2 separate regions of the Homo sapiens genome follow, and region 1 is linked to region 2. A link means that fine-mapping ties the variant in region 2 to the expression of a gene that starts in the linked region. Tissue or cell type: monocytes after Pam3CSK4. Region 2 holds a variant in brackets; the other region holds the start of a gene. All regions are shown on one strand. Distances are from middle to middle.

Evidence for each region.
Region 1: CHRAC1 starts here. The variant in region 2 is fine-mapped to the expression of CHRAC1 in monocytes after Pam3CSK4 (Quach 2016, PIP 0.92).

What each region holds. Positions count from the first base shown.
Region 1 is chr8:140,508,388-140,513,747 of GRCh38, forward strand. It overlaps CHRAC1 (chromatin accessibility complex subunit 1), which reads left to right and starts at 2,935. Exons shown (of 3, transcript NM_017444.6): 1 at 2,935-3,259. The coding sequence starts at 3,113. RefSeq lists silencers at 280-460, 2,638-3,647 and enhancers at 2,328-2,407, 2,418-2,627, 3,688-3,997.
Region 2 is chr8:140,634,058-140,639,417 of GRCh38, forward strand. It overlaps AGO2 (argonaute RISC catalytic component 2), which reads right to left and starts at 1,576. Exons shown (of 19, transcript NM_012154.5): 1 at 1,428-1,576. The coding sequence starts at 1,449. ERICD (E2F1-regulated inhibitor of cell death) reads left to right here and starts at 178. Exons shown (of 1, transcript NR_170171.1): 1 at 178-4,226. RefSeq lists an enhancer at 1-581 and silencers at 388-437, 921-1,090, 1,741-2,140. The variant C/A (reference allele first, on the strand shown) is at 3,135.

The DNA.
Region 1 (5,360 bases), 130 kb before region 2:
CATAAGGCACAGTGCCATTTGGTCATCACTCAAGAACCAGTGTGAGCTTTTAAAGTGGATCTGCTCCCTTCAAAACTTTTTTTTTTTGAGAGTCTTGCTCTGTTGCCCAGGCTGGAGTGCAGTGGTGTGATCTGTGCTCACTGCAACCTCCACCTTCTGAGTTCAAGTGATTCTCCTGCCTCAGCCGCCAATGCAGCTGAGATTACAGGTGCTTACCACCATGCCCAGCCAATTTTTCTATTTTTAGTAGAGAGGGGGTTTTGCCATGTTAGCCAGGCTGGTCTGGATTTGTTTGTTTTTGAGATGGAGTTTCTCTCTTGTTGCCCAGGCTGGAGTGCAAGTGGCGTGATCTTGGCTCACTGCAACCTCCGCCTCCCGGGTTCAAGCGATTCTCCTGCCTCAGCCTCCTAAGTAGCTGGGATTACAGGCGCGTGCCACCATGCCCGGCTAATTTTTTGTATTTTTAGTAGAGACGGGGTTTCGCCATGTTGGTCAGGCTGGTCTCGAACTCCTGACCTCAGGAGATCTGCCCCCCCTCGGCCTCCCAAAGTGCTGGGATTACAGGTGTGAGCCACCGCGCCCGGCCAAAAATAAAATTTTTGTAGAGATGCTGCCCTGTTATGCTGCCCGGGCTAATCTCAAACTCCTGGGCTCAAGCGATCTGCCTGCTTCAGCCTCCCAAAGTGCTGGGATTACAGGCATGCACCACCTCGAGTTCAAAATTCTTCATTATTTTCCATTACTCTTGGAATGAAAGTCAAACTTTTTACCCAGGGCCAGAGCCGGTCCCACCTACCTTGGTAACCACACCTCCCGTGCTCTCTGCCTCCCTCACTAAGCTCCAGACACACTGGCTTTTCAGTTCCTCAAACTGCCCAGGCATTTTCCTCGTCAGGTGTTCTCCCTAGAGCCTGACTTGTCCCGAAAGCTCATCTTGTCTCAGTCTTTCTGTATGAGTGGCTCCTTTTCTTTCTTCAGATCTGGGCACAAATGTCACTTCCCAGAGGGGCTGCCCTATCACTCGCACATGGTTTTGTTTCCTTCGTAGCTTTCAGCATTGGAGGTGTATTTTTTTTTTTTTTTTTTTTTTGAGATGGAGTCTCCCTCTGTCGCCCAGGCTGCTGGAGTGCAGTGGCGCGATCCCGGATCACTGTAACCTCTGCCTCCTGGGTTCCAGCGATTCTCCTGCCTCAGCCTCCCGAGTAGCTGGCATTACAGGTGCCCACCACCACGCCCAGCTAATTTTAATAATTTCAGTAGAGATGGGGTTTGACTATATTGGTTGGGCTGGTCTCGAACTCTTGACCTCAGGTGATCCACCCACCTTGGCCTCCCAAAGTGCTGGGATTACAGGCGTGAGCCAAAGCGCCCGGCTGGAGGTATTCTTACTTATTTTTCAGTCTCCCTCAGACCTGAAGGTCAGCTCTAAGAGGGCAGGGACCATGGCAGCCCTGCTCACTGGCTGTACCCTTGTGCCTAGCAATGCCTGACATGTATTTCTGTGCTCAATTATTTGCGCCAGGACCTCACGTCACAGTGGTGAAGAAGACACTACACTTAACACGCTCCAATTCAAACCTCTGCCAAAATGTGCTCCCTGTCTCAGTAAAGGGCTCTTTACCAAGGCCTTTCTGATATCTCAGTAAGCTGTGCTGATACTCCACAGCAGCTCCCTCTTGAAATCAGACCCCAAACCCTACCACTTCCCATGATCCTGGCAGAAGTTAAGTTGGTGGCCAGGCGCGGTGGCTTACGCCTGTAATCGCAGCACTCTGGTAGGCCGAGGCGGGCGGATCACGAGGTCAGGAGATCGAGACCATCCTGGCCAACATGGTGAAAACCCGTCTCTACTAAAAATACAAAAAATTAGCTGGGTGGCGCGTGCCTATAATCCCAGCTACTCAGGAGGCTGAGGCAGGAGAATTGCTTGAATCGGGGTGTTGGAGGTTGCAGTGAGCCGAGATCGCACTGCACTCCAGCCTGGCGACAGAGCGAGACTCTGTGTCAAAAAAAAAAAAAAAAAAAAAAGTTAAGTTGGACCCCTTACTCTTCCAAGGGCCTCCCCACTCATTCAGAGCGAATTCTGCGGTCTCCGCGGCCTTCCCTGGTCTGGCCCCTGACCATCTCCTGCCTCTCTCCTCCCAGCTGCTGTCCCCTTGGTACTGCCGGCCTCCTGAGGGCCACGTTCCTGGGTTCTCGTAATCATCTTCTACCTGGTCTCTGTGATTCCGGCCTTACGCGCACCCACGCCCTCCCAGCCGGCAGCTGCAGGGATCCTTTTAAAACTGCCCGGGACTCCACTGCTCAAACCCTACCACCACTTCCCATTTTCCTTAGAAAAAAAAATCCAACAGGACCTAGCCCCGGGCTGCCTGTCAGACCTCGGCGAGCACGCCAGGCTCTGCACACCGTCTCTCGGAGCAGTCCCGAAGAGGCCGTTCCCACCAGACTCCGGGACCTCCTCAGGGCAGCTCTTCGTCCTCCACCCCGCAGGAAGGCTCTTCTCCCAATCACCCCGCGGCGCAGCAAGCCTGGCCCCGCCGCATCGCCCGCGCTGGACTCTGCTCTTCCACCGGTCGCCTGGCTACCGGCGCAGGACGCATCCGCTGTCCGCTTGGTCGTCCCCCCTGGACTTTGTGCTTCAAGAAAGCGTCACTTTTTGCCGACGGCGGCACGCCCGGTCCTAGTACAGCGCAGGCGCTTAACACACAGCACCCAGCCACGAGGCCCGGAGTCAGAGGGCTTTGCTTGCCCATTCACAGAGCCCTCACCCGCGGATCAAAGTCGTATTCCGCGACCGCAGCCCGGAGACTCCCGGGAGCGGCGCGGTGCGCCCCGCCCCCGCCAGGCTCTCGGCTGCCGGTTCCGCGCCGGGCCTCGCACTCGGGGGCGGTGTCCGAGCGTCGGCGCATGCGCAGATCGGGGGCGCGAGGCCTCACGGAGCTCGTAGTTTCCCGGACGGGCCGCTCCCGGCCTCGCGGCCTCGCCTCCCCACACTACAACTCCCACGGGGCAGCGGGCGCGGCTCCCCGTACCCACCAGCTGGCCGGGCAGGGCAGCCACTTCGCGGTCGGGCCCGCCGGCTGCGGGCACCCGCGCGACGGGCGGGAAGATGGCGGACGTGGTCGTGGGTAAAGACAAGGGCGGGGAGCAGCGGCTCATCTCGCTGCCTCTATCCCGCATCCGGGTCATCATGAAGAGCTCCCCCGAGGTGTCCAGCATCAACCAGGAGGCGTTGGTGCTCACGGCCAAGGCCACGGTGAGGGGGCAGGGCGGGGGTGTGGGCCGCCCTTACCCCTCGCGCCCCGCCCCGCCGGGCTCTGGGCACTGCCCAGTCCCCTTAGGCCCGCGCGCCGCCGGCTGCTCTTGCCGGGCTCGCGCGCGCCCCGCTGTCCCCGTCCCACGCCGGCGCGCGCTTCGGTGCCCGCGCGCCCCCACACTTTCTCGCGCGTCTTCGCCCCGCCCACCCCTCGCCGCTCCCTCACGTTCTCCAGTTTCTTCGCCTCGCCTACCGCGCGCCTCTCCCGCCCTTTGTCGCCTTCCTTCGCTCCGCCCGCCCCTTCCTTCCGTGCGCACCTTCGCCCCGCCCACCCCACTGTCCTCCCGCCGTTTCTCTCGCGCTTCCATTCGGCAAACCCGTAAGCTCCCGCGTTCCTCTGCGCGCCTTTCGTCCCTCCCACCTGTGCGCTCACGTCCTCCCTCGCGTGCGGCGCTCAGTTTCCGGCCCTACCCGTGGGCGTCGGCGCCTAGTGGCGCTCTTCTCATTTGGGTTCTTTGGGGGCTCTTTCACCCGCGACTCCCTACTCCCGGCCTGCCTTTTTCTTGTCACTGGACTGCTTCGTGCTTTGAGGGCCCTAACTCCTCCAGTGTCCCGTGGGAGGGGCAGCCGGGCGCTTCACCCGCGACTCGAGGCTCTTTTCCCGCGCGTGCGGTGCCAGCTCCAGCGGTCCGAGGCTTTCGAGCCCTCCCGCCCGCCACAGCTGGGGCCCCTCGTCTAAGAGGCAGCACATTCCCCAACCAGAATTTAAGGAAGTCCGGGGAACTTAAGTTTTACAGCCTGCTTAGCATCCTCCTGGGTGCAAAATAGATAATTTTGTCTTTTTTTAAAAAAATTGCGTCTCGATAGTGTTAGGCCAGATGTTTTCCTGTTCTGACACTGGGCCATGTTTCAGCTACACAGTTAAATGCTTTAGCTTGTCTTGGATTCTATTTTCCAGTCCCTACTTGTAGTTAAGTATATGATGTCCCTGCAGTGTTGGACTAGAACTAAGGGAAGTGGGAAATTACAGGTTTCTTGCCCGCTTTATGTCAGAGCCATGTTTTCCTAGAGCCCAGGGAAATAATTGCATATTCAGCATTTCATCTGGGGACATTTGTATTTTCCTATACAATTTCATTCTATTGGTATTAAGGAATGAGGATTTATGCAGGCACTTCTGACCCGTTATTTTATTTTTTGAGATGGAGTTTCCCAGGCTGGAGTGCGGTGGCACTGTCTTGCTCACTGCAACCTCTGCCTCGCGGGTTCAGATGATTCTCCTGCCTCAGCCTCCTGAGTAGCTGGGATTACAGGTGCCTGCCATCACACTCGGCTAATTTTTGTATTTTTTGGTAGAGACAGGGTTTCACCATGTTGCCCAAGTTGGTCTTGAACTCCTGACCTCAGGTGATCCGTCTGCCTCAGCCTCCCAAAGTGCTGGGATTACAGGCGTGAACCATCACGCCCGTCTTTCTCATCCCTTATTAACTGAACTAGATGCATTAAAGTCAAAACCTTGAGAAAGAGGCTCAGTTCAGCCTCTGTAAAAATGAAGACTTGGCCCTGCTATAAGAACTGGGATGCAGGAGGGAGAAGATCAGTTCCGGTTGTTTCATTAGGTCTGAGGGTTGTATGTCAGTTCCTAGAATAGAAAAGTTTTGGCAAAATGTAAGCTGTGGTCACTATAGTTGTAGGTGAACCACCTTAGAAACAGTGTATGCAAATAGAAGACTAAAAAGGTATTCCTGAGCCAAATAGAATTTTTGAATGGCTTTTTGCTACTTTCTATTTTTTTTTCTTTTTTTTTGAGACGGAGTCTCGCTCTGTCGCCCAGGCTGGAGTGCAGTGGCGCGATCTCGGCTCACTGCAAGCTCCGCCTCCCGGGCTTACGCCATTCTCCTGCCTCAGCCTCCCGAGTAGCTGGGACTACAGCCGCCACCATGCCCGGCTAATTTTGTTTTTTTTTTTTATTTTATTTTTAGTAGAGACGGGGTTTCACCGTGTTAGCCAGGATGGTCTCGATCTCCTGACCATCCTTGGTCCGCCGTCCTTGGCCTCCCAAAGTGCTGGGATTACAGGCCTGAGCCACAGCTCCCGGCCG
Region 2 (5,360 bases):
GAGGGGGCCTGGCCACCCAAGGCCTCTAGAGGCCAGCACCTGCTCCAGGACTGCGGCCCCTCCCAGGTGGAGGGGGAAAATCATTCTTCAAACTGCTGATGGCCCTCAGGGGTTGAAAAGTTGGTCAGACTCCGCCTTGTTGAAGCTTTCTAAATGACATCAGAAAAAAGACGCGACATTCGCAAGGCACAGAGCCAACAGCTCCAGCAGTGGGGGCCACCATCAACGGACCAAGGTGGGCCAGGGGGCCTTCCGGACCCCACAATTTGGGGCCGGTCTGCAGCAACGAGGGCAGCATCGGGAATGCGAGCCTCCTCGCCCGGCCGGGTAAACATAAGCCCAGAGCCCGGCGGGGCCTGCGCCGCCTGCGGCCCGGCTGGGGCCCAGCGGACAAAGGGGAGCAGGCGGTGCCCCGTCCCAGCGGCCAGGCCGGCCGAGAGAGCCAGGAGCCACGTGCCCGGTGGGAGCACGCCAAAAGCAGGAGAACACCTGACCGTTTTTTTGGCCCACCAAGGAGACCGCCTTCTACTCTGCATTTAAAAAGAAAAACAACGCGTTACCGCTTTAAGTTTTTTAGAACTTTTCCAGAGAAAGGCCGACTAGCAACAAGGGGTGCTACAGGAATCCACCTCGCCTCACCTCTCCTAGGAAATTGTAAAAGGAATTAGCACTTGAATGGGGAGGCCGGCGTGTCTGGAATGAGAACGAGCCGCGCACGCAGTTTGAGGGTTCCGGGGAGCCGCGTCCTCCCCTTTCCAGGCGACAGCCCTAACTACAGGAATTGGCCAAAATTCAGCATTTCCAGACTTTCCTTGGGAAAAGGGGCCGAAGAAGTGCCGGCAACAAGAAGGGCCACAACGGAGCGCGCCACAGACTCACCGCGGCTGGGGTCGGGACCGGCGCAGCCCCCTCCCCTCCCGCCCGTGCGCGCCCCGAGCCGGGCGCCCCGACCCGGCCTCCACCCGCTCAGGCGCTCAGGGTCAGGCCGGGCCGGGCTGCGGCGCCCCCATCCCCGCCCGGGCAGCGAGGCCGGGCCAAGCGGGGCGCTCCGGGCCTCGGGCCTACACGCGGCGGCCGCCTCGGCCCCGGCCCCAGCCCGCGGGCCCCGGGCGGGGGATGCGAGGACGCTGGGACGCGGGCCCGAGGCGCGGGAGGGGCCCAGGCCGCGCGGGGCGCCCCGACGACTCGCGGGGGCCGAGGAGGCCGGGGCTGCGCGTCCAACGCGGGGCCGAGAAAACGGCCGGCTCGGCCCCGCCGCCGCCGCTCCTCGAGCCCCCAAGCGCGGCCCCGGCTCGCCCGCCCCCGGCCCCCGCCGCCCCGACCCCGCGGCCCCCCGATCCCCGGCCCCTGCCGCCCGCGCCGGGCCCGCCAACCACGGGCAGGAGCGCGCGAACGGCCGGGCGGGCGCCCCGAGCGCCAGGACTCACCGGGGCCGGCTCCCGAGTACATGGTGGCGCCGCCGAGGGGCTCCGGGGCCGAGGGGCGGCCGCGCGCGCGCCACGGGCCCCGACGCCGCGAGCCGCGAGGGAGCCGCCGGCCGCACGATCCGCCCCGGCGCGGCCGCCTCGCCAAACAGGTTTACCCGACGCGGCCGGGGCGGCGGGCGGAGGCGGCGGCGGGAGCGGGAGCGGGAGGGGCGGGGGAGGAAGGAGGAGGGAGGGGGAGGGGAGGCGAGGCCGGCGGCGGGAGCGCGCTCGCGGGGGGAGCGGGGCTGGGCGCGCGGGCGGGGTCCGCGGCGGCGGCGGCGGCGGCGCCGGGTCTGGCGGGGCCTGGGGCGGGGACCCGGGGAGGGGCCCGGAGACCTCGCCGGGCGGTGGGAACCGCGGGCGGGAGCGGGGACGAGGGCCGAGGGCGGCGCGGCCCGTGTGGCGCGGGGGCGGGCGCGGCCCCGGGGACCCTTCACTGCCACCCAGAGAAGCCGCGTCTTCCCGACGGGGAGGAGCCGGGCCCCCCGGCTGTGCCGCCGGAGCCGGAGGGGAGGCCACGCGCCCCCGCTTTCCCCGCCGCCCCCCGGTGGGGGGCGCAGAACCCTCCCACCCTCAGCCCCTCGGCCCCCAGCCTGGCTCTTTAAGTTACTACAGAAACACGGAGGTCGGGAAGCTCCCTCCCAGCCCGGAGCTTGAACTTGAACGCGGCCGGCCGCTCGCGCAGGACCACACCGCCACCTCCCGGCGCGGCCCCAGAACCCAGATAATCCGTTTAAAGCACTGAGAAAATCTAAGAAGTTTTTAGTAAACTGTAGCTGGTATCAGGGATCAGATCAGCGGACACGCCCATTCCAGCAGTCAGGGGCCTGCTCGGACCGTCGTGCACCTCCGAGCGTTTCTGTCCGGTCCCTCTGGGTCCGTCTGGTTTTCGGAGGCTTTCCTGGAAAAGCCAGCCTGTGGCTACCTCCTTTCTCCCCTAAGTGATGGAGGATTAGAAGGCAGAGGTTGACCCACAATCTAAAGTGCCTGGTCGCCTTTTCCCAGATTTCCCGGAGCATTCCTTCACCCCGTGGCATCGGCTGTCTGCATATGGGTGCAAGGCCCTGTTCCGGGCGGAGAATAAACAGGAGTTCTGACTGACAGGAGCTCCGCAGCCAGCAGGGTGGTCACTAGTTCTCTGCAGTCTCGGAGGACAGCCCTGAAGAAGGGCAGGAGAACCAGCACTTCCTCCGAAAACTCAAAAGGACATCAGTCTTCACCAAGTTGCCGATACAAAACGTGCTCCTGAAATGTGTAGTAATGAACACCAGGAAACCTGGGTAGGAGTGTGCATGGCATTCTTCATCACCGCTTGGACTGCATGGCACTGAATACCCACGGAGAGCAGGATGGAGAAACAGTGTGCTCATATTCACAGGATGGAATCTAGCCATTCACAAAAATTCCAAAACAGGCAAAATTAAACTGCATTCTTTAGGGAAGCATCATTAAGTAGTAAATAATTGACAGAAGGGCAAGAAGGTGCTTACTCTAAGTGTCAGAATGGTGGATACAGCTGGGGGTGAGAGGGCTGTGACCACAGCAGGGCCCCTGGGGGATTTGGGGGTGCCAGGCCTGTTCCTTCCTGCAATGGTGCCCTTTGGCAGCCATCCCTTAAACTGCACTTTTACTTTATATGCTTTTCTGTACCTTTACTGTAGTATTTCA[C/A]GGAAATTTTTAAATAATCATGAATGTTACCACTTTCCTATTTATGAACCATGCAACCTCATCAATCTTCCCAGTTCGCAGATGCCCACCCTCTCTCTCTGCCCCTGTCTCCTTCACATATCCCCAAAACTCGTTTTGGCCCGAAATCCCTGAGGCCCAACTGCCCTGCTGTCAGCGACTGCACGCCTCAGCAAAGGCCCAGAAGGCTCTGTCATCACTGGCTGCCCTCAGCCCGCCTTCAGCTCCTTTGAGCGCTGTGTTGGGGAACTTTGTTGCAAGGATTTCGTTCCAGAAGGCAAGATAATGTCTCTGAGGGCTTCATTGTGTCACTTCTCTTTGGATGGCGGACACCGTGGCCCTCTGCTGGCGGAGGGGTGCCATTGCTGCCTGCCCCATCTCTATCCCCAGGGCCCATGCAGTCACTGGGTTCGCCCTCTGGGGCACGGGGTTCCCTCTGCTCTTTTCCTAGATAAGCCCATTCTCTGCAGGTCTCTACCCTCCACACCTGTGTTCAGGAATTCAGCCCGCTTCCTGCAGCCCCATCCCTACCCTCCTCCCAACCTGCTTTTCTTCTGGTGTCCCTCACTCAGCATGGCTAACAGATCCACCACCCAACGGAGCTGAGAACTGCAGTCCCCTCTGCCTGTTACCTCTCCTGCCATTAGTGAACCTGCTTAACTCATCTGACTGTGCGTCTCGGTGCTTGCTGTGACATGTCTCCAGCCCTTGCTGCTCTGTCCCCCAGACCCACGTCCCACACCCGGATGGTGACTCAGCCGACTCTGGGTCTTCTGGACCCAGTGCTTCTCCCTGATACAATTCCTTCCTCTGTGTTTTAGGATCCTGATGCTTTGATAAGACCGTGGGCTCTAATCACAGCCAGGGACATTTGCAGCAGCCTGGCCTGCAGCTCTGCACACTGGGTGCACTCAGTCTAAAGCACCAGCTCCCCATGAGAGAGAAAGAAGGGGTGAGGGGAAGTACAGAGAAAGCTCCTGAGGCCACAGGGCTGACAAAGCCCTCGGCTTTGGGGGCACTTTGTTTCTTCAAGACTAAAATGCAGGCAATGGAATAAATCATTTGTTCCTAAAACATGTTCTGCACATGATTAAAGCAGCTTTGGGAAGTCAAGTAAATTGGGAAGCACTGGATCAAACAATGATAAATAAGTTTATTGTCTGCAGGCCTTCTCAGAGCCTGTAGCAAGGTGAGAAGAATCATGCTTCTACAAAGAGGAAGGAGGGCATGAGACAGTATGCAACCTGTCCCAAACCCATTTAGCCACAGAACCCTTTTTTCACGAGGTACCTCAAGGTTCCGTGGAGCATAATTTAGGAAACACAGAGGTAGAGGTCTTCTATGATCCCTTCCAGCTCTAATAGTCTATGATTCTTTGAGTAATATATACTTTGAGACAGGATCACCAAAGTGAAAGTGTAGTGGCGAAAACACAGCTCATTGCAGCCTTGACTTCCCAGGCTCAAGTGATCCTCCCACCTCAGCCTCCTGAGCAGCTGGGACCACAGGTGCATGCCACCATGCCTGGCTAATTTTTAAAAACTTTTGTAGAGACAGGTCTCACTGTGTTGCTCAGGTTGGTCTTGAACTGCTTGGCCCAAGTGATCCTCCCACCTTGGCCTCCTCAAAGTGCTGGGATTACAGGCATGAGCCACTACACCTGACCTTATTTTTTTTGTTTTTGTATTTTTCTAGACAGGGTCTCACTCTATTGCCCATGCTGGAGTGCAGTGGTGCAATCATAGCTCACTGCAGCCTCCTGGACTTAAATAATCCTCCTACCTCAGCCTCCCAAGTTACTAGGACTACAAGAGTATCCCACCAGGCTCAGCTAATCTTTGTAGAGATGATGTTTCACCATATTGTCCAGGCTGGTTTCAAATTCCTGGGCTCAAGTGATCCACCAGCCTCAGCCCCCAAAGTGCTGGGACTACAAGTGTGAGACACTATGCCCAGACTGGTTTTTTGTTTTGTTTTGTTTTTTAATTAAAAACTAAGCAGGTGGCTCACGCCTGTAATCCTAGCACTTTGGGAGGCCAAGGCAGGTGGATCACGAGGTCAGGAGATAGAGACCATCCTGGCTAACACGGTGAAACCCTGTCTCTACTAAAAATACAAAAAATTAGCTGGTTGTGGTGGCACGCGCCTGTAGTCCCAGCTACTCGGGAGGCTGAGGCAGGAGAATCACTTGAACCTGGGAGGCGGAGG